Homo sapiens: one gene and its partners. The protein of the gene in region 3 interacts with the protein of the main gene of each other region in a pairwise test. Each region holds a gene or a part of one and is shown on either strand. Other genes may lie near its edges.

The links.
Region 1: the proteins of SUFU (region 3) and CRX interact in binary tests that used the Homo sapiens proteins (3 or more experiments, as listed by UniProt).
Region 2: the proteins of SUFU (region 3) and BFSP2 interact in binary tests that used the Homo sapiens proteins (3 or more experiments, as listed by UniProt).
Region 4: the proteins of SUFU (region 3) and STK36 interact in binary tests that used the Homo sapiens proteins (3 or more experiments, as listed by UniProt).
Region 5: the proteins of SUFU (region 3) and RCN3 interact in binary tests that used the Homo sapiens proteins (3 or more experiments, as listed by UniProt).
Region 6: the proteins of SUFU (region 3) and ZNF747 interact in binary tests that used the Homo sapiens proteins (3 or more experiments, as listed by UniProt).
Region 7: the proteins of SUFU (region 3) and LCA5 interact in binary tests that used the Homo sapiens proteins (3 or more experiments, as listed by UniProt).

Annotation. Positions count from the first base shown.
Region 1 is NC_000019.10:47,828,082-47,832,032, reverse strand, and holds part of CRX (cone-rod homeobox protein), read right to left. Parts: intron 1-3,951. UniProt on the Homo sapiens protein: Transcription factor that binds and transactivates the sequence 5'-TAATC[CA]-3' which is found upstream of several photoreceptor-specific genes, including the opsin genes.
Region 2 is NC_000003.12:133,465,992-133,469,942, forward strand, and holds part of BFSP2 (phakinin), read left to right. Parts: intron 1-836; coding exon 837-968; intron 969-3,951.
Region 3 is NC_000010.11:102,506,905-102,510,855, reverse strand, and holds part of SUFU (suppressor of fused homolog), read right to left. Parts: intron 2,578-3,951; exon of another isoform or gene 1,950-2,577; intron 1,688-1,949; coding exon 1,553-1,687; intron 1-1,552. UniProt on the Homo sapiens protein: Negative regulator in the hedgehog/smoothened signaling pathway. Down-regulates GLI1-mediated transactivation of target genes. Down-regulates GLI2-mediated transactivation of target genes. Part of a corepressor complex that acts on DNA-bound GLI1.
Region 4 is NC_000002.12:218,674,716-218,678,666, reverse strand, and holds part of STK36 (serine/threonine-protein kinase 36), read right to left. Parts: intron 3,325-3,951; coding exon 3,194-3,324; intron 2,639-3,193; coding exon 2,389-2,638; intron 1-2,388.
Region 5 is NC_000019.10:49,530,614-49,534,564, reverse strand, and holds part of RCN3 (reticulocalbin-3 precursor), read right to left. Parts: intron 373-3,951; coding exon 170-372; intron 1-169. UniProt on the Homo sapiens protein: Probable molecular chaperone assisting protein biosynthesis and transport in the endoplasmic reticulum.
Region 6 is NC_000016.10:30,531,736-30,536,428, reverse strand, and holds the start of ZNF747 (zinc finger protein 747), read left to right. Parts: upstream 1-1,570; 5' UTR 1,571-1,749; coding exon 1,750-1,978; coding exon of another isoform or gene 1,979-2,118; coding exon 2,119-2,232; intron 2,233-3,277; coding exon 3,278-3,930; 3' UTR 3,931-4,693.
Region 7 is NC_000006.12:79,534,358-79,538,924, forward strand, and holds the start of LCA5 (lebercilin), read right to left. Parts: upstream 3,074-4,567; 5' UTR 2,808-3,073; exon of another isoform or gene 2,759-2,807; intron 1-2,758. Other genes in the region: SH3BGRL2 (SH3 domain-binding glutamic acid-rich-like protein 2), read left to right, coding at 3,504-3,527, 4,371-4,486. UniProt on the Homo sapiens protein: Involved in intraflagellar protein (IFT) transport in photoreceptor cilia.

The DNA of each region.
Region 1 (3,951 bases), on a different chromosome or scaffold from region 3:
GTGTGGTGGCTCACATCTGCAATCCCAGCACTTTGGGAGGCCAAAGCAGGCGGATCACCTGAGGTCGGGAGTTCGAGACCAGCCTGGCCAACATGGTGAAACGTCTCAACTAAAATACAAAAATTATCCGGGCGTGGTGGCAGGCGCCTGTAATCCCAGCTACTCTGGAGGCTGAGGCAGGAGAATCGCTTGAGCCCGGGAGGCAGAGGTTGCAGTGAGCCCAGATCGTGCCACTGCACTCCAGCCTGGGAGACAAGAGCAAGACTTCATCTCAAAAAAAATAAAAATTAAAAAAAGTTCTAGGCTCGGCAATAAGACAAAAAAAGCTGACAGCATGCCATTTCCAAGTCATCTGGGAGTCTTGTCTAACAGACCCACCCAAAGTTTGCTTCATATTCCAAGGCAGCAGTCCTCAACCTTTTTGGCACCAAAAACTGGTTTCGTAGAAGATAATTTTTCCATGGATGGGAGTGGGCAGTGCCTTAGATTTTCATAAGGAGTGTACAACCTAGATCTCTCGCACGTGCAGTTCACAATAGGGTTCACGTTCCTGTGAGAGTCTAGAGCCACCGCTGATCTGACAGGAGGCGGGGCTCAGGCAGTAATGCTTGCTCACCAGCTGTGCAACCCCATGCCTAACAGACTACAAACCGGGGGTTGGGGACCCTATTCTAAGGGACTGTACCTGTATTTGATTTACTATTCTTTTTTTTTTTTTTTTTTTTTGAGACAGAGTCTTGCTCTGTCGCCCAGGCTAAAGTGCAGTGGCGCGATCTCGGCTCACTGCAACTTCTGCCTCCTGGGTTCAAGCGATTCTCCTGCCTCAGCCTCCTGAGGAGCTGGGATTACAGGCATGCGCCACCATGCCCGGCTAATTTTTGTATTTTTAGTAGAGACGGGGTTTCACCATGTTGGCCAGGCTGGTCTCGAACTCCTGACCTCGTGATCCGCCTGCCTCGGCTTCCCAAAGTGCTGGGATTACAGGCGTCAGCCACTACACCCGGTCTGTTATTCATTATTGATTAGAGTCTAGACTTCGACAAGGTAAATGGTAACCCCAGGAAGTTTGGTTGCAAATGATTTCTCTCTGGTAGAAAAGGTAACCTCAAAGGTTACAGTTGTATTGTCCTGTAGGTCTTTAACCAGTTTTGTATCTAACCTGGCAAATTTTCTCCAGCCCGTCTTTCCTGACTAAACCTATCAACTTCTGTTCATCAAATTCTCCTTTTTTTTTTTTTTAATGGAGTCTTGTTCTGTCGCCCAGGCTGGAGTGCAGTGGCACAATCTCGGCTTGCTGCAAACTCCACCTCCTGGGTTCAAGTTATTCTCCTGCCTCAGCTTCCCAAGTAGCTGGGATTACAGGCATGAGCCACCACACCCAGCTAATTTTTTGTATTCTTAGTAAAGACAAGGTTTCACCATTGTTAGCCAAGCTGGTCTCGAACTCCTGACCTCAGGCACCCGCCACCACGCCCAGCTAATTTTTGTATTTTTAGTAGAGTCGGGGTTTCACCATGTTGGCCAGGATGGTCTCAATCTCTTGACCTCGTGATCCACCCACCTCAGCCTCCCAAAGTGCTGGGATTACAGGCGTGAGCCACTGCACCCGGCCCAAATTCTCCTTTGAAACAGCTGGTTCCTTCATTCATGACTTAAATAAATCTTTGACCTGTGCTTATTATATATGCGTCAGAGAATCAGATTTGTTTTTTGGGGTTTTTTAAGAGACAAGGTCTCCCTCTGTCATCCAGGCCGGAGTGCAGCGGCGTTGCCATAGCTCACTGCAGCCTCCAACTCCTGGGCTCAAGTGATCTTCCCACCTCAGCCTCCCAAAGTGCTAGGACTACAGACATGAGCCACCACACCTGGCCAAATGTTTTTCTTTTTTTCCCATTTAATTGCACTTTGACAATAAGTGTTTGTGAATGTTATTTTATATATTGTATATGACCAAACCATATATATTTATTATTATTTGTGTTATTATATATTATAAATATTATAAAATTATAATATTTATATATTCAAAGGAAACAAGTATGGTGCTGGGCAGTATGTATACCTCGCAACCATTTGTGATTTTTAAAACAATGCAGATGGCCAGGTGCTGTGTCTCACACCTATAATCTCAGCACTTTGGGAGGTCAAGGTGGGCAGATTGCTTGAGCCCAGGAGTTCGAGACCAGCCTGGGTAACATGGCAAAACGCTGTCTCCACAAAAAAAAAAATACAAAAATTGGTCAGGCATGGTGGTCCGCACCTGTAGTCTCAGCTACTCAGGAGGCTGAGGCAGGAGGATCACTGGAGCCCAGGATTTGGAGACTGCAGTGAGCTATGAGCATGCCACCGCACACCAGCCTAGGCAATAGAGGAAGACCTTGTCTCAATAATAACAATAAATAGGCCAGGTGCAGTTGCTCACGCCTGTAATGCCAGCACTTTGGGAGGCCGAGGCAGATGGATCACCTGAGGTCAAGAGTTCAAGACCAGCCTGGCCAACATGGCAAAACCCTGTCTCTACTAAAAATACAAAATTAGGCAGGCGTGGTGGTGGGCGCCTGTAATCCCAGCTACTCCAGAGGCTGAGGCAGGAGAATCACTTGAACCCGGGAGGCAGAGGTTGCAGTGAGCCGAGATCACGCCATTGCACTCCAGCCTGGGCAACAAGAGCGAAACTCCATCTCAAAAAAAGAGTCATAATAATAAAGTAAATTTAAAAATAAAAATACAATAAAATAAAAATACAAAAATTAGCCAGGCATGGTGGTGCATGCCTGTAATCCCAGCTACTTGGGAAGCGGAGGCAGGAGACCCTCTGGAACCTGGGAGGTGGAGGTTGCAGTGAGCCGAGATTATGCCAGTGCACTCCAGCCTGGGAGGCAGAGTGAGACTCCATCTCAAAAATAATAAGTATTATAATTATGAATTAATAAACAAAATGAGGCATTGATTTTACTCATGTGTAGAATATACACTTGTATATGCGTAGAAAATTCCCAGGAAGGAAGCAAGCTACTGGCACCAGTGACTGCCTCTGGGAAGGAATGCTAAAGCCATATCTTGTCTCTATAGTTTGGATTACTTTTTAATTGTGTGTGTGTGTGTGTGTGTGTGTGTGTGTGTGTGTGTGTGTGTGTGTTCTTGTCAAAAGCAAAAACAACAATAAAATCTTCAAAAAAGCAAACAGAACATGAAAACCCTCTGAGGGTTCCTCATTGCCCTCATTAGGATGGACTCAGAAAACCTCTCACCCTCCACAGCTATTTGCATAAGCCGTTTCCTGGGCTAGGAACGCCTCTCCCCCACCCCAAAGCCCCTCTCACCAGCTAACCCCTTCTCCTCCACGTCTCAGCTCAGCTACTTTCCCCAGAGAAAGCAACCTACGCCCCTAAACTGGATTTTACACACACACACACACGCTCCCTACCTCCTTTTCTTCAAGACACAGCTTGTATTAAACGACATATTTATATGTTTGTTTATCTATCTCTCTCCCTCAAATTCTATCAGTTACCTGAGTTCAGGGACTGGTAATATCTCGGTTCCTGCCATGTCCCCAGCACCCCCAATAAATATTTGAAACATAAGAAAAAGAATTAAAAATGGATGGTGTTTATTGTGAGCTCCCACTCTTCCGTTCCTCTCACTGTCCTTTCCTTCTCATCCCTCACATGAGGAGGGGGACAGATTCTGTTTATTTTAAGTTGAGATTCTACTGTTCATTCAGTAAATATTTTTTGAATGCCTTCCCTGCTCTAGGAACTAGGAATATAGGAAGAAATAAGACCGCAGCTTCTCTGTTCTCATAGAATTGAACTTCTTGGTTCCGTTCCTAGAGAAACCAATAACAAACAAGGAAAAAAAAATTTTTTTTTTTTGAGATGAAGTCTCACTCTTGTCCCCCAGGCTGGAGTGCAATGGCTTGATCTCGGCTCACTGCAGCCTCTGCCT
Region 2 (3,951 bases), on a different chromosome or scaffold from region 3:
ACAAGACAACACTGTGCAGCCGCTATAAAGAATGTACTCAATTTCTATTAGGTTGGTGCAAAATTAATTGCTGTCTCTGCCATTGAAAGTAGTGGCGAAAACTGCAATCGCCTTTGCACCAACCTAATATGTACTGATATAGAATAATTTCTAAGATACTTTAAGTACCAAAGCACGGGGGGGGCAATACATATTTATTTATAAATATATAAACTATTTCTGGAAAGAGGAATAAGAAACTAGAAACAAGAGAACTGGATAATTAAGACACAGGAGAAAATGAGACTTTATAGTCTGTAGGAAATCTTTTGAATTGTATTTCATTTGCAGGCATCGTATGTTCAAAATAAATACATTTTTGTATACAAGTTGGTGAAGGGACCTGTTTAAAAAAAAAGACATTTCCAGCCAGGCGTGGTGGCTCACGCCTGTAATCCTAGCACTTTGGGAGGCCAAGGCATGCGGATTACCTGAGGTCAGGAGTTCAAGACCAGCCTGACCAACATGGTGAAACCCCATCTCTACTAAAAATACAAAAAAAATTAGCCAGGCCTGGTGGCGGGTACCTGTAATCCCAGCTACTCGAGGCAGGAGAATCGCTTGAACCCAGGAGGAGGAAGTTGTGGTGAGCTGAGATCGCACCACTGCACTCCAGCCTGGGCTACAGAGCGAGACTTCATCTCAACAAAAAAAAAAAAAAAAAAAAGATGTTTCCACGTGACAGCTGTATTTCCTCTGGTTAGAGGCAGTGGAGTGGTGATTAGAAAGGCTGGGAAGGAAGGATGGGCTCAGATTTCTGATCATCACCGCTCACACTGAGACCTGACTCTCCACAGCAACAGGCGGAGGTGGCCCACATGTCCCAGACCCAGGAGGAGAAGCTGGCAGCTGCCCTCAGGGTGGAGTTACACAACACTTCGTGCCAAGTCCAGAGCCTCCAGGCTGAGACAGAATCCTTACGTGCCCTGGTAAGTGGGCCAAGGAAAGACCTGGTGTCCTTGTGCTAATTTTAACTCTCTACTGTCAAATTCCAGTATTATGGATCTTAGTTTCCAGGGGATTCCCATCTCACAGCATATGAGTTTTGAGGCCTGAAATGTCTTCTGACTCCCAAGGATCATCAGATACTGAATCACAGCAGGTGCAATAGACACTGTAGTGCCCCACGGAAATATCTCTTACCAGGCTGCTGCAGTAAATGTTGACTGTTAACATCTGCAGCCGCCCCTTTTCAGCTGCCCCACTGCTCCAGAGACCTGCCCTTACCCACACTGAGGACACCTGGCCCAGAAGGTTAGGCCCTGCCCCCCAAGGCTCAGCCAGTGACTAAGAGGGGGCTTTAAAATTAAAAGCCCAGCCCTTTTGCTTCAACATGGAGCTAGCTCCATGCTATAGAGCTCTCCATAGGACCAGGCTGTAGCCAGATTCCAGAGACCACATCCTCGCTTAGTGCCTTCCTCTGCCCTGTCCTGCTTTCCTCACTCCCCCTTTTCCTGAGAGTACTCCTTAATGATTTGCGAGTTCCAGGATCCCTAACTCAGGCTCTGCTTCTGGAGAACCCAACCTGAGACATCTAGTAAGCTCTCAGACTCACTGGGATTTGCAAGCTCGTCTCTTTCATTATTAATTATTTATTAAAATATTAAAATAATAAAATGTATTAATAATGAAGCAATCCACCCTCTGATCTCTGGAATGGATTGAAGTTCTATTTGGGTATTAAACATCTTTTCTTAGATGTCCCCTCCAGGAGGTCATTTGCATTGTTCTAACTACAGCTTCGTTGGTGCAAATCAAAGGTTGGTCCATGTAATCCTTGTGCAGCTGAGATGGCCTGGAGTCAATGAGGCGCATGATAGGATGTAGGTCCGTGCAAGCATGTATAAGAAAAGGATCTGAGGATCTGAGGGGAGGAAAATCAAGAGTAATAGAGTCAGAAGGGCTCAGCTCCTCCATTTATCCCTTGGGTAAAGAGGCAAATCCCTGAACCACAGTTTCCTCTTCTGCAAAATGGGTATGATAGTCACAGTCCAGCCCACTTCTCAGTGTTTCTAGGGGGATCCAATGTGTGGATGCACATGAGCATGCTCTTCTGACTCTTAGCATTATTTTGAGAACTTGCTATGTTCCTAGAACTGTACCAAGTGCTTTGGAGACATAAAACTAATGAGATATGGTCCCTGCCTCCAAAGAGTTAATGTGGCTTCGGTGGAGGAGCTGATACAAATGTGAGGGAGGGGCAGATGGGAGAGAGCACCCCTGCTGTGGGAGTCAGGAGGTAGACTTCGTGGTGGGTGCTCTCCTCACTCACTAGCTATGTGAATGAACAGCTTTCATTTTCTCACTTGTAAAGTGAGGATCTATTTTGGCTATCATATCTAGTTACTGTCTTAGTAGCTTAAGACAACAGTGAATCACTTGTTCTCTCATTCTGTGATTTAGGCAGAATTCAGCAGGGATAACTCTTCTCTGTATCATGTGGCCTCTGCTGGGGCTGGAACACCCAAAAATGGCTTCTTCATTTAGCTTCTCTGGTGACTCAATTGTGCATCTCTTTTTCTCTCTCCCTGTGACCACTCCGTGTAGCTAGCTTAGACCTCCTCATATCATGACAGCCTGACATAGTCAAACTTCTGATATAGCACCTGAGTGAGCACAGAAGCTACCAGGCCTCTTAACACCTGGGCTCGAAAGTCTCTGGACATCACTTATACCACATTCTAGTGGTCAAAGCAGTCACAAGACTATCCTAGATTCAACAGGGAGAGAAATAAATTCAACTTCTTGATGAGACAATGGCAAGGTCACATTGAGAAAGCGATTGTGGAGTGGAGATAATTGTTGTAGCTGCCAATGCAAGTGTGAGCCACTTTAGGATCGTAATAGAATTTACCTCATAACGTCATTGAGATGATTAATTTGATAATGTATGTCAAGCCCTTAGCACAGTGCCTGGCAGTTAGTGAGCAGTCAATAAATGCCATCTATTATTAATTATCATATAAAATTGCTATAATAGCTACTAGTACAGTAACTCCAAGTTGGCATCACCAGCCACCTGGTCACCTCACTTAAACCCAGGGTCCTAACCATTGGGGAAAAAAATGGAAAAATAATTTACACTCTCAACCAGAAAACTTCAGAGTAGTGCCATTCTGTCTATGCCCATAGCCCAGAACAGGCTGCCTCTGTTCCCTGCTGGTTCTAGTAGATTATCGTTCTGGTCACGGGGCCTTGCAGCCAAGGTGAGGAGCACAGATTGGGACAAAATAGGTAACAAACTCTCATACAGTTTTCAGATACAGGAAGTTCATCCAGCCATTCCTGTTATTCTGTCAGAGCGATCTGTGCACACACAAGGCCCCCGCAGCTTATATAAGCTTCAGACAGCCAAGCTGGCGAGACTTTCGGCCCCCTTTGCCAATAAGGCACTATTTGCATTGGAAGCTAGGCACAAATAATGGTGCTTGAGACCTGCTGAACTCTGTGTCCAGTCAACTCAAATCAGGAATGGAATTCAAGGCCAGAAGTCACAGAAGGTCACTATTTTACTTTCTGGAGGATTTTGCAATCCCAGAAAGTCCCTTCAAATCTCCAGAGACCTGCAGAATAAGTGTGCTTCTGTGATCTCAGCTTGTTTGCTGGTGCTGTCTGCGTGGCTGACTGAGCCAGTGTACTTGCCTGCAACAGTAGCCTGATCATAGTCACTCCAGCTCAAGCATCTCTGGGAGAACCAGGCATCCTCTCTTTCTGCCATAATGTCAGGGACTTAGGTGGGGAAGCTGGATTCGGACTTTAAGGGTGAGATGGAAGACACATATAACCTTTGGCTGGGGTTCCAATGAATGCCCTGTTGGCAGTGGGTCCTAAGTCACCATGGAAAAACCTCAGGCCACATGAAGAACTCACCTAGAAGATGGAGCAAAAACTATAGACAGATGATCCAACCGT
Region 3 (3,951 bases):
AGCCACCACACCCAGCCTAATTATTATTTTTTTAAGACACAGTTTCACTCTGTTGCCCAGGCTGGAGCACAGTGGCACGATCTCAGCTCACTGCAACCTCTGCCTCCCAGGTTCAAGTGATTCTCGTGCCTCAGCCTCCGGGGTAGTTGGGAGTACAGGCACATGCTACCATGCCTGGCTAATTTTTTGTATTTTTAGTAGAGACAAGGTTTCACCATGTTGGCCGGGCTGGTCTCGAACTCCTGACCTCAAGTGAGCCACCTGCCTCAGCCCCACAAAGTGCTGGGATTACAGGCATGAGCCACTGTGCCCAGCCAAAAAAAATCTTTTTAAAATATAGATGGTAGCAGGCCGGGCACAGTCGTCACGCCTGTAATCCCAGCACTTTGGGAGGCCGAGGCAGGCAGATCACGAGGTCAGGAGATCAAGACCATCCTGGCTAACATGGTGAAACCCCGTCTCTACTAAAAATACAAAAATTAGCTGGGCGTGGTGGTGGGTGCCTATAGTCCCAGGTACTCAGGAGGCTGAGACAGGAGAATGGCGTGAACCCGGCAGGTGGAGCTTGCAGTGAGCCAAGATCACCCCACTGCACTCCAGCCTGGGCAACAAAGCGAGACTCTGTTTCTAAAAAAAATAGTTGGTAGCTTATTGGAGTACATGATATAATTGCTCAAAAGGCAAGAGAATACAGTCATTAACAGTATGAACTCTGAGTTGGGCACAGTGGCTCACACCCATAATCCCGACACTTTGGGAAGCTGAGGTGGAAGAACTGCTTAAGCCCAGGAGTTTGAGACCAGCCTGGGCAACATGGTGAAACCCTGTCTCTACAAAAAAATTACAAAAATTAGCTGGGCATGGTGGTGCTTGCCTGTCGTCCCAGCTACTCGGGAGGCTGAGGTTGGAGGATCACCTGAGCCTAGGGAGGTCGAGGCTGCAGTGAACCATGATCATACCACTGCACTCTAGCCTGGATGACAGAGTGAGACCCTATCTCCAAAAAAAAGCATATAGGGCAACAAACGGAAGCAGACTAAGATAAAAAAATAAATAAATACAGGTTAAAAGGAAGTAGGTAAGATAGATAAAGGATAAGAGATGAACAGATTTGTGATAAAGCAAGTATAAAGTTAACAGTAGAATCTGGGTTGTGGGTATATGAGTGTTCACTATAAAATCCTTCCAACTTTGCTTTATGTTTAAAATGTTTCATAATAAGCTAGGGGAATAAAAGGAAGTAGACACAGAGGCATCAGCCCAAGTTCTGAGTCATAACCATGCTACCTTCCTGTCCTATGAGCCCAAACTCCAGGGCAAGCTTAGAAAAACCTGATTTGGGAATCCTGCTCATCAAGACTTTCCTGCACTAGATAAGCAGGAATCAGGTGTTAACGAGGACCACCTTGGCATGAGTAGATATAGTCAGAGGGCAGAAATGCAGAGGTTCCACGGAGAAGTACCATGCTCACAGCACTATGACATTGTCACCCCTGCTCAGGAAGACCTCAGGAATAAGGCTCTGGATAAAGAACAGGTGGCATATACTCACTCATGGACTCTGTTGTCACCATAGAGATCACTCAGGCCGAAGCTGATGTAGTGCCAGTGCTCGGGGATGTTAGCAGAAGGGCTCCCCACATTCCTGTACATGCTAACATAGTCCAAGGGGTCTGGGCCACCCAACCTGCAAAAAACAAAACACAGGGGTGTTAGTGTAAGCCTGGAAATCAGACAATGTCAAGCTAAGGCGCTCTACTTTGTAAACCTAAAGGACCCATCCTGGAGGAACCTGGGTGAAAGGTAACTAAACAGAGGCCACATCTCTCCAGAATGAGACTAAGGGATGGACAGCTAAGGCTGCCCAACTCTGCAAGCCCAAGAGGCTCCCTTCTCCTACCCCTGAAAGACTGGGCCTCTTTTAGAAATAAAACAGACTGGATGGTTACCCATTTTGCTTTCTCCTGTTTCAAATTACCGATCCCAAATGAGATTGGCAGGGATTGTCTCTCTTCTGTGGTGCCTGTATACATGCCAAGCTTCAAGGCAAGAGGTACATCAGTCAATCAATTGGCCTCTGTTGAAAGACCATCCCAAGCATCCCCAATGGGCATTGTTCCTGGAAGCAGAGGCTCTGCTCCACTCCAGCCTCTTAGACAGCTAATTCCTGAAAGACTATATTGTGCCCTATGTTAATTACAGTTTGTTCTAAACAAACCCAAAGCCTCTAGTCTGTGCTGACACCAGCCTGCACCCCATAGACCAAAGCTGGTCTCTTATCATTGCAAGTGACAAAGGCCAAACTTAGGCTTAACTTAGTTCTGCACAGAGAACTGCAGAAGGAGTCAAACTGCGCCCTGTGAGCATCTGCACCCAGAAAATGATCCCAGGAGAGACTGCCACATCAAAGGTAGAGCTGGGATGGTAAATGATTTGGGGCCTCTCAGGACCACATTAAATTTCCCCCACCATTCAACTGAGAAGGAGTTGCGGAAGAGATTCAGTTATTATCTCACTCTGAGGATTTAATACAATAAGAGTTCCCTTTAGTAATCAGTGCTTTTTAAAAAAAATCCTGTTTTGGCCGGGCACGGTGGCTCACACCTGTAATCTCTGCACTTTGGGAGGCCGAAGTGGGTGGATTACTTGAGGTCAGGAGTTTGAGACCAGCCTGGCCAACATGGTGAAACCCCATCTCTACTAAAGATACAAAAAATTAGCCAGGTGTGGTGGCAGGTGCCTGTAATCCCAGCTATTTGCTATTTGAGAGGCTGAGGCAGGAGAATCGCCTGGACAACAGAGGCAGAGGTTGCAGGGAGCCAAGATTGCGCCACTGCACTCCAGCCTGGGTGACAGAGTGAGACTTTGTCTAAAAAAAAAAAAAAAAAAAAAAATGGATAAGAAATTTTGGTAGCTAGAGAAATAGACCAAATAGAAACCATCAGTGGAAGGAAGTCTGCATTTAGCCCACAAACACGGCATTTGAGCTGCCTCAAACATCTGACCATTCCACAGACTGCAAAAGCTTCACCTGCCCCTGGGACATCGATGGAGTACACTTTGCAACTGGGATAGCATGCTGGTGGAAAGCTAACAACCAAATAAAAGACATGTTACAAGTGATCCCAGTCAATGGTGCCAGCACCAGGCAATTTAAACACTATTTAAAACCAGTTGGTCTTGTTTCGTCCTCTTTCACCAGGATATTATTTGCCTTTGTGGATAGAAATCCCTATTCTCTGTTAGGAAATGCTAAGTTATTTATAGAACTTTTAAGAAAGTTGCTACAAATAGCTTAGCATCTCAACAGAGGAAGAGGGACAACTCTCCATGTCTGCCTTAACTGATTTCAACAAATCACTTGACTAATTCTACAACAGGTTGGATTTAGAAAAGTTTGTGGGGCAAGGGAAGAAAGAAAAGAGTAGAGATCCCTGGAAAGACCCCATTAGAGCTACAGAACTCCAGAGCAGATGAGAGCCACTACAGGCCCCATACCTGCTCCAGTTTCCTGCTGCAAATTTCCAAACCTGCCCCGCTACAGCCTAGGTCCATCCTGCACCAAGCTGCAAAACTGTGTTTACCATTCTCTGCTCCATCTGCAGCATCCCTGCAGCCCTCTTTCTCACCAAGTCTCCCACAAGGTGTCACATCAAGGAGAGAAGCTTAACCTTCAAACTCCAACTGCAAGGAACTACCAAGAGTCAGATAAAATTAACCCTGTCCCCAAGCACAGAGTATTCTGTTTACTTACTACTCAGAGGCCAGATGAGTATGTGGAAAAAAATCGCATTTTACACTTAGCAAATGATGTTATCCAAGGTCCCAGGGCATCCCTCAACTTAATTCCTTGAACACCCAACTTCTCTCTGCAGGGCAGTTGCAGGACTGAAGTGGGCCATGAGTACAGGTTCTGCCTCTCTGCTTTGATCCTTGCTCACCAAAGTCTCA
Region 4 (3,951 bases), on a different chromosome or scaffold from region 3:
AAGTCTTCAGAGGTGGAGAGATAGGGAGACAGTCTCTGAAAAGGATACACCTTATCCTTATCAGGAATCTTTGGGGAAATCCTCAATTGGGCCTCAAATAGGAACAGAGGTATTAGTAGATTATGACCACTGTTCTAAAACAAAGTGAGCTGTATAACTATGGATCTTGCTGGAGATACCTGAGTATCTGCCCATAGGGAGAATGAATATCCTATGTGCACCGCTTCCACTTAAGATTCCTTCATTTAGATTATTCTTGACAATTATTCGGGCCCCCTCAACTAAACAGGGGAGGAATTTGTTGTCCCTTTTCATCTCAGATAAAGCAAAGCTACAATAAGGTTTCACTCTGGGAGAAGACTGCATTTAAATTCTATTGAAAATCCATAATCTTGCCCTACATAAAAAATAAAAGAAGGTTGGGTGCAGTGGCTCATGCTTGTAATCCTAACTCTTTAGGAGTTGAGACAGGAAGATTGCTTGAGGCCAGGAGTTTGAGACAAGCCTGGGCAACACAGTGAGACCCTGTCTCTAAAAAATTTTAAAAAAAATTTAATTAATTAAAAAAGAAATAGAGGCCAGGAGCAGTGGCTCACGCCTGTAATCCCAGCACTTTGGGAGGCCAAGGTGGGCAGATCGCGAGGTTGGGAGATTGAGACCATCCTGGCTAACACGGTGAAACCCCGTCTCTACTAAAAATTACAAAAAATTAGCCAGGTGTGGTGGTGGGCACCTGTAGTCCCAGCTACTCAGGAGGCTGAGGCAGGAGAATGGTGTGAATCTGGAGGGCGGAGCTTGCAGTGAGCCGAGATCGTGCCACTGCACTCCAGCCTGGGTGACAGAGTAAGACTCCATCTCAAAGAAAAAAGAAATAGAAAAGAAGTCCAACTCCTCTTCTACTCTTCCCTCCTCCAGACTACTGACTTAGTCACAATGAGTAGGCACCACCTCTATCATCTGCCCCTAATCACTGAACCAGCTCCACCAGCTCTCACCATTCTGATAGCTTTGGACTGAAAGCTATGTAGATAACATCTAGAATGTGGACATAGCATCTGACAGGAAGTAAGTGGAATAGATGGCATGTAAGAGGACCAGTATCGATCTCTAGTATCTTCCAATTACCTTTTCATTGTGATAAAGCATAGCCTGGCTCAAACTGGAGTTACCATTCTCAGGTTTGGCAAACTTTAGAACACCCTCCCAGAATTAAGACCCTGCAGTAGAAAAGCAAGGCTGCCTGGCCCAGCTCTGGCATTGATATGGTTTGGATTTGTGTCCCCGTCCAAATCTCATGTCGAATTGTAATACCCAATGTTGGAGGAGGGGTCTGGTAGGAGGTGACTGGATCATGGGGGAGGACTTCCCCCTTGCTGTTCTCATGATAGTGAATGAATTTTCACGAGATCTGGCTGTTTAAAAGTGTGTAGCCCTGGCCGGGTGCAGTGGCTCAAGCCTATGATCCCAGCACTTTGGGAGGCCAAGGCAGGCGGATCACCTGAGGTTGGGAGTTCGAGACCAGCCTGACCAACATGGAGAAACCTCATCTCTACTAAAAATACAAAATTAGCCAGGCATGGTGGTGCATGCCTGTAATCCCAGCTACTCGGGAGGCTGAGGCAGAAGAATTGCTTGAACCTGGGAAGCAGAGGTTGCGGTCAGCCGAGATCGCGCCATTGCAGTCCAGCCTGGACAACAAAAGCAAAACTCTGTCTCAGGCTGGGAGCAGTGGCTCATGCCTGTAATCCCAGCACTTTGGGAGGCTGAGGCAGGCGAGTCACGAGGTCAGGAGATCAAGACCATGCTGGCTAACACGGTGAAACCCCGTCTCTACTAAAAAATACAAAAAAATTAGCCGGGTGTCGTGGTGGGCACCTGTAATCCCAGCTACTCAGGAGGCTGAGGCAGGAGAATGGTGTGAACCTGCAAGGCAGAGCTTGCAGTGAGCCAAGATCACGCCACTACACTCCAGCCTGGGTGACAGAGCGAGACTCTGTCTCAAAAAAAAAAAAAGAAAAAAAAACTGTGTCTCAAAAAAAAAAAAAAAGCGTGTAGCACCTTTCCTTTCTCTATCTTCCTCCTGGTCCACCACGTAAGACATGCCTGTTTCCCCTTTGCTTTCCGTCATGATTGTAAGTTTCCTGAGGCTTCCCCAGCCATCCTTCCTGTACAGGCTATGGAGCTGTGAGCCAATTAAACCTCTTTTCTTTATAAAATACCCAGTCTCAGGTGGTTCTGTATAGCAATGCGAGAACAGAATAACACAGCCATTAATTCAGTAACTGCAAAGTCCCGCCTCAGCTCTGGAAAAGGATTTGGAAAAAGGAACAGAGATAGAGGGAGACAGATTTCTAATGTAAAAGTCATCTCCCTTTCAATATTCATTACCTTAAAGCAGGGACTGATGGTTGAGGGCCAGCGCACAGGGTCCTTGAGAATGAGGCTGACCAGCTGAAAGATGCTTGTAGCATAGAAGGGAGGGGTGCCTACTGCCAGTTCATATAGTATGCAGCCAACAGACCAGAGGTCCGCTGTGTGGTCGTATGGTCGCTCCTCCACCAGCTCTGGAGACATATAGAGTGGTGTGCCTTTGATGGATGTCAGCACCATTGTATTGGTGCTCATAGCCCGGGCAAATCTGCAGAAGATAATGGGATGGAAATGGAAAGGGAAAAGATATTCTAAACCTGGTCACTACTACCTAACATAGAGATATCCCAAACCGGAGCAGAGGGAGCACCTTTGATTAGGTTCCAGAAGACCCAGCAGCAGTCCCAGCCTCTAGCTCCGGTTCTAAAATGAGGCCCAAATAAGTCAAGAGTATGGTCTAAGATTCCCTGTGGGGCCAGGCTCAGTGGCTCATGCCTGTAATCCCAGCACTTTGGGAGGCCGAGGTGGGCAGATCACCTGAGGTCAGGAGTTCGAGACCAGCCTGACCAACATGGAGAAACCCCATCTCTACTAAAAATATAAAATTAGCCAGGCATGGTGGCACATGCCTGTAATCCCAGCTACTCTGGAGGCTGAGGCAGTAGAATTGCTTGAATCCGGGAGGCAGAGGTTGTGGTGAGTGGAGATCGCACCATTGCACTTCAGCCTGGGTAACAAGAGTGAAACTCCATCTCAAAAAAAAAAAAAAAAAAAAAGATTCCGTGTGGAACTGGAAGCTTAGATGGATGCTCAGAATCTTTACCCAAAGTCACAGAGCTTGATGCCACCACCCTTGGCGAGGAGGATGTTCTGAGGCTTCATATCTCGGTGTAGGATGCGGTGGGAATGCAGATAGTACAGGGCTGACACCAACTGGGCAGCAATGGCCTGAACCTAGAAATTAAAGAGGTGGAAGAAAGAAAAAAAAGGTTAGAAACAGCAGCTGGCTGACAAGCCCAAAAATTTCTCTTAATATTACTGCTAATCTTTTCTTCCTTCCCTTTCTTGCAGAGCTTCACACTATTCTTTCTTAGTTATTGTTCCCCTTGTTTAATCACTCTTTCATTTGCTCATTCATTCATTCAAGAAAAATTTATTGAATCTCATTTACTATCTGCTTGACCATGGGCAAACTAAGGTGACAATCTATATAATAACACCATCTACATGGAGGATTATTGTGAGGACTGAGTTAAAGCATGCAAAATAATACTCAGAATGGTGCCTGGCACATAGTAAATATTCAATACACATTACCTGTTATTAAATAAGACAAAATGCCTTTTTTCAAGAAAAGTAGTCAGACAAACAAACAAGACAGATAAAACAAATATGGTGGTCGGGCGTGGTGGCTCACACCTGTAATACCAGCACTTTGGGAGGCTGAGGCGGGCAGATCACCTGAGGCCAGCAGTTCGAGACCAGCCTGGCCAGCATGGTGAAACCCCATCTCTACTAAAAGTACAAAATTAGCTAGGCATGGTGGCGCATGCTATAATCCTGGTTACTGGGGAGGCTGAG
Region 5 (3,951 bases), on a different chromosome or scaffold from region 3:
CCAGAGGTGAGAAACTGAAGATCTCACAGTTATGGGCTCCTAAAAGTGGGTAGAGCCTGGTTAGGGGCCAGGGACTCCGGGTAAATGGGTTCAGGGTTCTCAGAATGAGGCGGTCCAGAAGGTCAGGGTCACGGTGTATGGGGAGCAGGGTCGGGGGCTCGCCGCGTACCGGGCGCGTAGTGGCCATAGGTGGCGTTGCGCAGCTCCTCCCAACCCACACGCCCGTCGCGGTCCGTGTCGTACGTGTCCCAGGCCGCGCTCACCGAGTCCCGTATGTGCCGCTGCTGCGTGTGCGCGATCCACGCGCGAAGCTCGGCCAGCGACACCCAGCCGTCGCCGTCCCCCGCGCGGTCCATGCGGTCCACGATCCGCCTAGAAGCCGGGGCGGGCACACGTCAGGCTCTGGTCCCGCCCCCAGGCCCCGCCCCTCGCACGGGCCACGCCCCCTGGGACACTTCGGATCCGGGGCTGAAAATACAGTCCACGGTCCGCGGGCTAACTGGGGAGGGGCGCGGGTCAATTTCGGGACCAAGCCCACCGGAGGACCCTACCCCTCAGCCTAGGGTCCACCCCCAGGTCGAGTCACGCCCTTCTCCAGAACGAGCGGGCCTGCTGGGAGCACTGCGGGGGAGGGACCTACTACGATGCAGGGCCACCCTCTCCGCGCCGGCCCCGCCCTCGGCCTGCACGTGCTGCACCTCTCGCTGGGCCGAGCTGGGGTGGTGAAGGGGAGCGCGGCGTCGCACTGTGACCCTTGCCAAGGGGGCCCTGTTGCAAGATTGACTCTGAACCCAGACAGCCACGGCCACACCCCCGATCCCCCGCTGTCTCAGGCCCCGACCCGCCCCATGCCCCTCCCCCTTACCAGGCTGCGCGTGTCAATTTCAGGCTCCTCTCCCTCCAGCCCTGCCCTGTGCTGAGCCCCGTGGCTTTCCCCTGCCTGCTCCCGGCTGAATCAGGCACTGCCTGAGGACCATCACCCGCAACCCCGGGGGCTCAGTCTCCCTCTGCCCCTCCCCATGCTCCTCCGGGCTCCTGTGCCCCTCCCTGTCGCATGTCAAGCCACTTTAGGTTCCATCTCTCCCCTTCTCTTGGGCCACGCCTATCAGCTCTCGGGCCCCTCTCCTCTCCCTTGGTGACGCCTTGCCAGGCCGGTCCTCTCCCAATCTCTAATTAACAGAGACTACCTGGAGCCCTCCTCCCTGTCACCGTCCCTAGGCCCCCGCGGCCCCCTCCCTAAAGTCGAAAATCCGAGACAGCAGAGCCCTCTCCAGGCCTGCCTGAGTCACCGCCCCACCTCCCGCACCAGGCGGTCTCTGCTCCAGTCTGTCTAGGGCCCCACTCTGTCCCCGGAATCACACCCTTCTCTGAGGTTCCTGGTGTTGTTAAGCGCTTGGGCTCCACAGCCAGACATTTTAGGTCCAAATCCAGCCACTTCCTCTTACTGGCTGTGTGACTGTGGGCAAGTGACTTAACCTCTCTGTGTCTCAGTTACCCCTCTGTAAAACGGAGGAAGAAAAAACGGTACCTACCCCAAAAGGGCGGTTGTGGGGAATAAATGAGTTAGGCCATGTAAAGCACTTAGGACAGGACAGGCGCGGTGGCTCACGCCTGTAATCCCAGCACTTTGGGAAGCCAAGACAGGCGAATCACTTGAGATCAGACGTTCCAGACCAGCCTGGTCCACATGGTGAAACCTTGTCTCTACTAAAAATACAAAAATTAGCAGGGCATGGTGGCACGCACCTGAAATCCCAGCTACTCTGGAGGCTGACGCGGGAGAATTGGTTGAATCTGGGAGGTGGAGGTTGCAGTGAGCCGAGATAGTACCACTGCACTCCAGCCTGGGCAACAGAGCGAGACTCCGTCTCAAATAATAATAACAATAATAGGCCGGGCACGGTGGCTCACGCCTGTAATCCCAGCACTTTGGGAGGCCGAAGTGGGCAGATCACCTGAGGTGAGGAGTTCCAGACCAGCCTGGCCAACATGGTGAAACCGTCTCTACTAAAAATACAAAAAGTAGCCGGGCACAGTGGTGGATGCCTGTAATATCCACTACTCGGGAGGCTGAGGCAGGAGAATTGCTTGAACCCAGGAGGCGTAGGTTGCAGTGAGCCGAGATCGTGCCACTGCACTCCAGCCTGGGCAACAGAGTAAGACCTTGTCTCAAAAACAAACAAACAAACAAAAAACACTTTGGAGGCCGAGGAGGGCGGATCACAAGGTCAGGAGATCGAGACCATCCTGGCTAACATGGTGAAACCCCGTCTCTACTAAAAATACAAAAAATTAGCCGGGCGTGGTGGCAGGTGCCTGTAGTCCCAGCTACTCGGGAGGCTGAGGCAGGAGAATGGCGTGAACCTGGGAGGCGCAGCTTGCAGTGAGCCGAGATCGCGCCGTTGCACTCCAGCCTGGATGACAGAGTGAGACTCTGTCTCAAAAAAAAAAAAAAAAAAAAAAAGGCCAGGCGCCATGGCTCACGCCTGTAATCCCAGTGCTTTGGGAGGCCGAGGTGGGTGGATCACGAGGTCAGCAGATCTAGACCATCCTGGCTAACACGGCGAAACCCCGTCTCTACTAAAAATACAAAAAAATTAGCTGGGCGTGGTGGTGGGCGCCTGTAGTCCCAGCTACTCGGGAGGCTGAGGCAGGAGAATGGCATGAACCCGGGAGGTGGAGCTTGCAGTGAGCCGAGATCACGCCACTGCACTCCAGACTGGGAGACAGAGCGAGACTGCGTCTCAAAATAATAATAATAATAACAATAATAAAGCACTTAGGACAATGCCTGGCATTGCCATTAGTGCTAAGCTAAATGTGCTAACCTGTCACTGCCCTTCTTCCTCCATTTCTCCTTCATGCATGCCCATCCAAGCACAATCTCCCAGCCAGCAGTCCTGGGGACCACTGCCACTGTCTCCACCCTGATCTGACCACCATCTTGTCTTGTCTTCCACCTGGACTATCGCAGTCGCTTCCTCACTGGGCTCCCTGCTTCTTGCTCCCTACAGTCTGTTCCCCACCTCGCAGCCAGCAGGATTCTCTCAAAACCTAAGTCAGCTCATGCCCTCCCTCAGTTCTACTCTCAATTGGAGAAAAGCCTAAATCTTCATCGTGGCCTAAAAGGCTTTGCATTGCATGATCTGACCCCCTTTGCATGGTCTCAGGCAATCCGCCCGCTTTGGACTCCCAAAGTGCTGGGATTGCAGGCGTGAGCCACTGCACCTGGCCCTCTCTCTTTTTGAGACAAAGTCTTGCTCTGTTGCTTAGGCTGGAGTGCAGCGGCATGATTTTGGCTCACTGCAGCCTTGACCTCCCAGGCCCAAGTGATCCTCCCTCCTCAGCCTCCCTAGTATCTGGGACTACAGGAGCACGCCACCATGCTGGGCTAATTTTTGTATTTGTTTTGTAGAGGCGGGGTATCACTATGTTGCCCAGGCTGGTCTTGAACTCCTGGGCTCAAGTGATCCCCCAGCCTTGGCCTCCCAAAGTGCTGGGATCACACACATGAACCACCATGCTGAACCCCTTTGCTCCTTCTCTGCCCTCACCTCCCACTCTCTCCCCTTTCTCACTGAGTTCCAGCCACACGGGCCTCAGAACTGTTGCTCTGACACTCCAAGCCCACTCCTGCCTCAGGGCCTTTGCACTTAACTGTTCTGTCTGCCTGGAATGCTATTCACTCCGATACCCACATGGCTCAAATACCACATACCACCTTCTCATGGAGGCCTTGTCCAAGTTCCCTGTTTAAAATTGCAGCTCCAGCCGGGTGCGGTGGCTCATGCCTATAATCCCAGCACTTCGGGAGGCCGAGGTGGGCAGATCACCTGAGGTCAGGAGGTCGATACCAGCCTGACCAACATGGAGAAACCCCATCTCTACTAAAAATACAAAATTAGCCGGGCATGGTGGTGCATGCCTGTAATCCCAGCTACTCGGAAGGCT
Region 6 (4,693 bases), on a different chromosome or scaffold from region 3:
CTGCAAAAAAAAAAAAAAGAAAAGAAATATAAAAGCACCTGGCTTCAGCCACTTTTTCTGACTGCTCTCTCTTGTGAAGATGCCTGAGTACATGTAAAACAGGTACAATTTGTATTCTTTCCTCCTGTTAGTCTGTCTGCTGTCGATTCATTTTTTCTTATTTATTTTTGAGATAGGGTCTCCTAAGTTGAGCAGGCTGATCTCATTCTCTTGGACTCAAGGAATCCTCTTGCCCCGACCTCCCAGGCGCCAGGATTACAGGCGATTCTCAATCTGGGCCTAGATTCAACTAAAGAACCCACTAAGAGCTAAAAGGCGCGTTGGAGGTGACTCTGACTCCAGTACACAGGACATGTATGAAGTCACGTGGAGCACAGAGTAGGCCATCAGGAAGTGTGAGAAGGAGGTCTCAGGGGAGAGCTGGCGACTTTTACTGAGATAAAGACCCCAGGGGAAGCAGGTTGGGGTAAGAAAGGGATGAGCTGGGTTTGAGCCTAGGAGCCTTGGGCCATCCGCGCAGGGGCAGGACGTCAGGGAAGCCAAGAGCCTGGCTGCAGCTAGAGGGAGACAGGCGGTCGGGAGGCGTCCTGCACAGCACATGGGAGAAGCTCCTAGAAGAGAGGGCCCTCTGACTTTCTCAGCCTTACCCTATTCTCCCCGCTGCTTCCGCCATCTAGAAGCTCCCAGAATTTCAAGCTCCAAAAAGCCTACAATAGAGGAGGTTCTCCTGTATCCACTCCATGGCTTTTGTGAAAGGAAAATAAATCTTGGGACCCCCCCAAATCACTACGCTAAAGGAAAAAGTCAAGCTGGGAATTGCTTAGGGCCAACCTGCCTCCCAGTCTATTCAAAGTCACCCCTTTGCTGGCTGACACAGATGCATATCTGATTGCCTCCTTTGGAAACGCTAATCAGAATCTCAAAAGAATGCAACCGTTTGTGCCTCACCTTCTGTTTCTTGGAAGCCCCCTTCCTGCTTCACGTCTTCCTGCCTTTGCTTCAAGTTGCCCCGCCTTTCCAAACAGAACCAATGTACTTCTTACATACATTTATTGATGTCTCATGTCTCCATAAAATGTATAAAACTAAGCTATGCCCAGACCACCTTGGGCACATGTCGTGAGGACTTCCTGAGGCTGTCACGCGCGCGTCCTCAACCTTGGCAAGTAATTGAGATCTGTCTCGGAATTTCTGGGTTCACACTTTTTGCTCTCAACATTGGGAAGAGGCTGCTGTCGCCGTTTCTGAGGACAAAACGAGACAGTGATGGGCTGAAGTCCGATTATAAAAAGGTCCAGAGACGAAAACTAACTTCTGAGTTCACGAGGGCTGCCTTCCGCAGGGCGCTGCTTTGTTCCCGCAAACCCGGGCGGAAGCTCTGAGCTGCGCCGCCTCACCTGGCGGGGCCGGAGCATGCGCGGCTGGTTTTCAAGGCCGGCGCCTGTAGCCGCAACGGCCATTTTGGATTAGGGCAAGGAGAGAACTGGGCCTGGAGCGGGGGCGCGGGGAGGGGGGCGTCGTCGTGGGTACAATTGCGCAGGGGCAAAGGTCGAGAGGTCGCGCTGCCGCCGTTTTATTTGAAGACATCGTCCAGTTCTGACCATGGACTCGCAGCCATCGGCCCTTAGTTTCCATCCCCTCTAGTGGGCCTTCGGGGGCTCTACTGACGTCCCTCCTTCCCTTGGTACCGGGCCGGGGAAGTGTTCTCGGGCGCGGGAGGTTCCGCATGCCCAGGCCTGGCCAGGGGAGATGACCGATCCGTCGCTGGGGCTGACAGTCCCCATGGCGCCGCCTCTGGCCCCGCTCCCTCCCCGGGACCCAAACGGGGCGGGATCCGAGTGGAGAAAGCCCGGGGCCGTGAGCTTCGCCGACGTGGCCGTGTACTTCTCCCGGGAGGAGTGGGGCTGCCTGCGGCCCGCGCAGAGGGCCCTGTACCGGGACGTGATGCGGGAGACCTACGGCCACCTGGGCGCGCTCGGTGAGAGCCCCACCTGCTTGCCTGGGCCCTGCGCCTCCACAGGCCCTGCCGCGCCTCTGGGAGCTGCGTGTGGAGTTGGGGGCCCCGGGGCCGGGCAGGCGGCCTCCTCGCAGCGTGGGGTTTGCGTTCTTCTCCCCCAGGAGTCGGAGGCAGCAAGCCGGCGCTCATCTCCTGGGTGGAGGAGAAGGCCGAACTGTGGGATCCGGCTGCCCAGGATCCGGAGGTGGCGAAGTGTCCGACAGAAGCGGACCCAGGTGGAGTATCGGGTGCTCAGTCCCATGGGGACTTCTCTGTTCCTGTCCCATCCCGGTACCCTCTGCCACCTCCAGCTACCTGCTTAGCAGTTTCCTCTCTGAACTGCCTCCTCAACTGCGGCCAGGAGGCTGAGCCCCTGCCTGGCTCCGGGATGCAGCCTAGAAAGGGGCTGTGATGGGGGCTCTGGCCCTGCCATACCCGCCCCTGAGTCCTCACCTCTGCGTGGTCACTACACTCCGGGGACTTTTTTGTTTTGTTTTGTTTTAGAGACAGGGTCTCTGTTGCCCAGGCTGAGGTGCAGTGGCGCCATCATAGCTCACTGCAGTCTTGAACTCCCGGGCTCAAGCAATCGGCTCAACCAATCCTCCCGCGTGGGCCTCCAGAGTACCTAACACTGTAAAGGCACTCGCCACCACGCCTGGCTGGTTTTTTTTTTTTTTTTTTAATTAAAAAAATTTTAAAGAGGTAGAGGTCTTGGTGTGTTGCCCGAGCTGGTCTCGAACTCTAGCGATCCTCTATCTCGGCCTCCCAAAGCACTGGGATTACAGGCATGAGCCACTGCACCCGGCCTCTAGGTTCTGTTGACTCTACCTCCACATCATGACCCGCTCCAGTCGTTTTCCTGCACTATGGTTCCTATGCCCCCACATCCCGCCCTCCCATTTCCTTCCTTTAGTTCTTGCCTCAGCTTTTGCAGAGTATCCAGCCCCACTGAACTTGGCCATGCCCTCCTGGTTCTGCCTTTCTTGGTGCTGTTCCTTCTGCCTGGAATATCCCCAGGTGTCCGCTTCTTATTCCAGATCAGGCCCAGATGTTCACGTCATCTCTGCCCTTCCCCCGCGGTGACATTTCCCCAGCCCGGAGGCGGAATGGACTGTTCCCTCCCTCCAGGCTCTGTCTGGCTCTGCAGCCGAGGAACAGGTGTCACTCCTCCATCTCCTAGGAGCAGTCGGGGGTCCAGCAGGCCTGTCCCTGTCCACGCGGGCTGTGGGATTCAATGACCAGGATGAGCCAAGCCTGAACTCTCGCCTCCTTATCTTTCAGCAGATTCCAGAAACAAGGAAGAGGAAAGACAAAGGGAAGGGACGGGAGCCCTGGAGAAGCCCGACCCTGTGGCCGCCGGGTCTCCTGGGCTGAAGGCTCCCCAAGCCCCCTTTGCCGGGTTGGAGCAGCTGTCCAAGGCCCGGCGCCGGAGTCGCCCCCGCTTTTTTGCCCACCCCCCTGTCCCCCGAGCTGACCAGCGTCACGGCTGCTACGTGTGCGGGAAGAGCTTCGCCTGGCGCTCCACACTGGTGGAGCACATTTACAGCCACAGGGGCGAGAAGCCCTTCCACTGCGCAGACTGCGGCAAGGGCTTCGGCCACGCTTCCTCCCTGAGCAAACACCGGGCCATCCATCGTGGGGAGCGGCCCCACCGCTGTCCCGAGTGTGGTCGGGCCTTCATGCGCCGCACGGCGCTGACTTCTCACCTGCGCGTTCACACTGGCGAGAAGCCCTACCGCTGCCCGCAGTGTGGCCGCTGCTTCGGCCTGAAGACCGGCATGGCCAAGCACCAATGGGTCCATCGGCCCGGGGGCGAGGGGCGTAGGGGCCGGCGCCCTGGGGGGCTGTCTGTGACCCTGACTCCTGTCCGCGGGGACCTGGACCCGCCTGTGGGCTTCCAGCTGTATCCAGAGATATTCCAGGAATGTGGGTGACGGCCTAAAAAGTGACCATCTAGACATTGTGGGCGGCCCGAGATGGGCTCAGGGGCCCGAACCTCTGCAGCGGCCTGCAGGGAGGTCCCAGAATCCACCGCAAGAGCTGGCCTGGGGTGCGGACAGTCTGATCTTGGGCTCTCAGCAGCCTCTTCTGCCAGCACCTTGCTCCCCGCTGCCCTGGGCTCTCCAAGGCCCCCTTTGCTGAGGCAGGGCTGAGGTGAGAACCCCCCAGACCTCCATACAGGGAAGCAAAAGCTGTTTCTCCTCCCAGAGATGCTAAGAGGATTGAGGTAGAGAAGAACCTTGTTTTCTCTGTTGTCTTTTTCTTTTTACTTTTTTAATTTTTTGAGACGGAGTTTTGCTCTTGTTGCCCAGGCTGGAGTGCAATGGTGCGATCTCGACTCACTGCAACTTCCACCTCCTGGAGTCAAGCGATTCTCCTGCCTCAGCCACCCAAGTAGCTGGAATTACAGGCACCTGCCACTATGCCCGGCTAACTTTTTGTATTTTTAGTAGAGATGGGGTTTCACCATGTTGGCTAGGCTGGTCTCGAACTCCTGCCCTCAGGTGATCCACCCACCTCTGCCTCCCAAAGTGCTGGGATTACAGGCGTGAGCCACCTCACCTGGCCTTTTCTTTTTTATTCTTTGACCTTCCCACAAGACAATACCCATTGTCTGTTTTTTTTGTTTATTTATTTACTTATTAAGACAGCATCTTGCTCCTCACCCAGGCTGGAATGCAGTGGTGTGAACTGGGC
Region 7 (4,567 bases), on a different chromosome or scaffold from region 3:
TACAGTACATATTCCCAAAGTTTAGTCAGTCAAATGAAAACATCCTAAGATGTTCATTCATTCATTTATTCATTTATAAGACATTTACTGAACACCTATGAAATGTCAGGCGCTAGATTATAGATGGAGCTGAAGATACAAAAATGAGTAAAATACAACTGATCCTTTACCGTTAAGTAATTCCCAACCAAGAGGAAAAAAAAATAATGCGACAGTCTATAAGTACTAATGATAAAAGGAAGCAGAGAAAGCTTAGTAAACTCAGAACTAAGATTAGAGGACAGAGGGAGTTTGAGAAGGTTTCTAGAGGAGATAATGCCTAAATTGAGTCTTACGGTATTAGCAGAGGTTAAGCACAATTATAATTTCATGGATGTGTGTGTTTGAAAAGTGGGGGGGTAAATGAGGTTAGAAAAAGAAGACAGTGAAGTACGACCCTGTCTCAATAAGAGGATGCAGCATTTGCAAAAGTAAAAGGCATTAGATAAGCATGGCATATCACCAAACTGCAAATACTTTACAACTGTGCTGTCCAATACAGTGGCTCCTGAGCACCTCAAATGTAGCTATTCAGAATTGGCATATGCGGCAAGTGTAAAATACATGTGGAATTTTGAAAACTTAGTACATAAAACAGACCATAAAATAGCTCTTCTATAATCTTTCTTACATTGACATATGCTAAAATAATATTCTGGATATATGTGACTTAAAAATACATTAAAATTTCACCTGTATTTTATTGTGTGTCTACTGAAAAAAATGGATATAGCTCACATTCTATTTCAAATGGACAATGCTAGTTTAAAAGGATGGCACTGGCTGGGGAGTAGTGCTAAAGTAATAATAAGTGGGACTGGATCGGGTGGAAGATAATATCACAAGAAGAATCTCTATGTCATTAATAAGTTGGTTGGAAACCAAGGCTCTTCAGTAGGGTTAATATTATCAGATCTGACATTTGCAAGGATCCATCTCCAATCTAAGAATTGGAGGGCAGGAAAGCTGGAGGAAGAATATCAATTGGTCTCGATAATCACTGACAGACAGTGTTTTGAAAGTAGTATAACTAGAGATACAGAGTACGGAACTGATTCCAGAAATGTTTTTCAAGTAAGATAAACTACACTTGGTGACAGATTAAATATGAAGTCTGAGAATAGAGAAGAACTTGAGTAAATTCCAAAGTTTTGGGCTTGCAAAATTAGGAGAATGTGGTATTCAAGCAGGACAGCTTTGGCAGGGAAAGGTGATGGGTTCAATATTGGACATACTGAGTTTGGGATGCCTATGGATAGGAAATTTATGTGGAAATACCAAAAATTAGCTACAAAAGTTTGACAGTAACTCAAAAGTTCCAGATCAGAAATAAAAAATTGGGAGAGTGTTAATAAAACACAAATAGTGTAAGCCAAAGGAGAGGAAGAACACAGCCAAGAACACAGAGTAAAAAATAGAAGACGGAAGACTGAAGACTGGATTATTGGGAAAAACAATAATGAAATATGGTGGGCCGAGGAAGAAGATCCCACAAAGGAGTTGAAGAATGACAGGCAGATGAAGAACCCAAGAGAAGGGTAGCATCTTTATTTAATGGGCTTCCATTGTGTCCTACAGAATTATAGTTCCACAATATGTGTAACGGAAGAGATGTGACTCACAAAAGAAGAAAAATCTCTTTTCCAAAGTCACAAACTACTTTTTGATATTTAAAATGATACTTTGTCAACTTAGAGAATCAAAACAAACTATTATTTCCTATAACTTATTTGGATAAACATACTAGCTAACATGGGAAATCACAAAGTGAAATATTTAAAATGGTAATATAGAATTTAAATGTGGAACAACTGGAAAAAAACATAGATTAAAATAACCATGCAAAAGAAAGAGGGAATGAGTAAAGAACTGGAAACATCGGTTTTACCATTCTAAAACACATATAGCCACTCCCTCTGCCAAAAACTAAATGATGACTTCTGATTGCAAAGATATCTCTAATGCAAGTTCTTAACGTGAAGATAAAGGAGGGGAATAAATATGTATGTGCCCAAGTATACTTTCCAAAGAACAAAGTGAACAAAAAAGGGGTTTATATCAGATGAACTGGACCAGGGCTCTTCACTGTTAAACACTATCCCACGGTCTATCTAACGTAAACATCACGTATCTGAGTACCGACTCCAACTCGAGTATGCCAAAAAGGCACTTTCTTTTTTCTTTTATTTCTAACCATCTTTACTCCTCTCATCCCATCCCTGAAGGATGTATAGAAGTATCACAGCCTGGACAAGTACGGCTTTCCACTCTAACCACAGTTTTAATAATAACACATCTATTATTATCCGAGAGCTACCAAAGCCTCCTTTTCCGTCTTGGCCCTTGGCCCTGCCCCTCCTCTCTAGTCTTGAGTCTCCACGGGCCTCCGGGGTTTTTGTTTTGTTTGTTTTAATAACAACCACTTCTCTAGATCCGCTTGCTCCCTTTCTTCTCTTCTCGGTCCCAGGAAGTAAATACCCTTTCCCAGCTCCTCTCCTCCTAACTTCCCAGTCCCCCCAGTGCCGGTCAACCTCCCTTCCTCGGGACCCTCTCAGAAGCCGAGCTCTTTACTCATTTTCCTAGGTCTTCCTTCTCCTCGCGGTCCCTACATCCTCCCCCATCCCTAATCCCTTCATCTTCCCTGCTTTAAGAACCACCCGCAGGCCCCCATCCACGAACGCCCCTTCACTAGCTACCAGACGCTTCAACCCAGCCTCACCTCGCACCTCCACCTCCCCCGCCGTCTCCACGCCCACTTCAAAGCCCACCTCCAACCCGCAGGCTCTTCAGCAGAGCCGATGCGGCGTCCCGCCTCCTTGCCTTCCCTCTTAGGACCAAACTCCCAGCTGGGGCCTCGGCGTCTGACCGCCAAAGAGCGGGTGCCTGGTTCCTGCGGAGGCTGCCGGGCGGGTGCCGAGGTTGCCGAGATGCGGGAGGTTTGAACACAAGGATGGGACAGAGGCGAGGATCGGGGCTCCTGGGTGGCAGCGGCGGTAACCTGGGCTCCAGGGTAACGGAGGCGGAGGCCTAGACTGCACTACGAAGAGACCGCAGCCAATCATGATGACTCTACCCGAGCTCCCATTGGCTTCTGTCTCCAGACGGCCCTTTTTATTGGCTTCAGTGGAACTGGAAGGCGGGACGGCGAGTGCGGGAGAAGGTCTCCATTGGCCGACCGCTCTAGCTGTAGCGGAGACCCCCAAGTAGGGAAATTGGGGCAAAACGCGGAGCGCTCCAGGCTCCTACGGGCTGTGCGGTGCCAGGGCTCGACTGCTGAGCGTCGTGGGCTCCGAGAGGGACGCGGGCGGAGGGCAAAGTGGGTTCATGATATGAATTGTAAAATTGGCGACTGCGTAATGTAAAACACTTAACAATTGCTTAGATTTCCTTTGGGAAATAACTTGCTTTTAAATTGTAAACAAATTACAAACAAACTGCTAGTGCTTCTGGATCTTCTTACCGAAATGGCTGATTCAGGAGGATGCGGGGTGAGTGCACTATTGTTCCTGCCTCGAGATCCTGGCTGTGAATCACCAACGAGCCGTGAGTTTGGCTTGAAAGTGATTTTTAGGTTTTGGAACGGGTTTGGGGTGGAATGGCATCTGAAATATTTGCACACAAGTTTTTTTTTTTTTTTTTTTTTTTTTTTTTTTTTTTTAAGGAACGTTTTGAGGAGCATGTCAGCCTATTGAGCGCTGATGTGTGACATATTTTCTCTTTTAGAAATGGCATTAATTGCGGGAGACAGGGAAGGTAAAAAAAAATCCTCTTTCGTGAGGGCTTTAAACTGCTCCGAGCCATCTGATTATCAAGGTGGTTTAACACTACTCTGGTGTTCTCACTATTGTTAATTTCTCACTGGCCTTTTTACCACCATTCTGTAGAGAATCTAATATTTGAAGGCAAATGCGTTTAATGAATCTTCTAACCATGAAGATTGGTAATTCCTGCTTCTCGCTCAACCTCGTTTTTCCACCTTTGCACTGTTTCAAAGCTTTCATTTTATCCTGTCAATACATTTTACTTCAAGTTACAGACTAACCCACCCAAACAATATTGTGATTAAATGTAATTTTCTGTATGCGAAATACATCTGTACAAGATGGCAGTCATCTGTTAGTGAAAATAAGATGAGTAATCCCTAAATTGCACGGAATTACTTTTCATCAATTCTTTAATCTGTCTCTGCTGACACTGTTAAAATAGCTCACTCGTTATTATGGACTCTGTTAGAATTAACATGTAAATGTATGGGTGGATTACTTATAAAGGAAGTTGCTAGGAAGAATCAGAAAACATACCGTATTTACGTGGACAAATGTCTGTCACAGGAGCGTCAGATCAGGATTGCTGAAGGAGAGCTGAGAATGAAACCACCATTTATTCAGCACTCAGAATGCTCCAGGCAGTGTAATCTCATTCCATCTTCATTCATGACTCCAGACAGGTATTGTTATTCATTGTTTATACTTGAGAAAGCAGATTCAGAGAAGTTAAAGTATCTACCACAAGGTACGAAAGTAGTAAG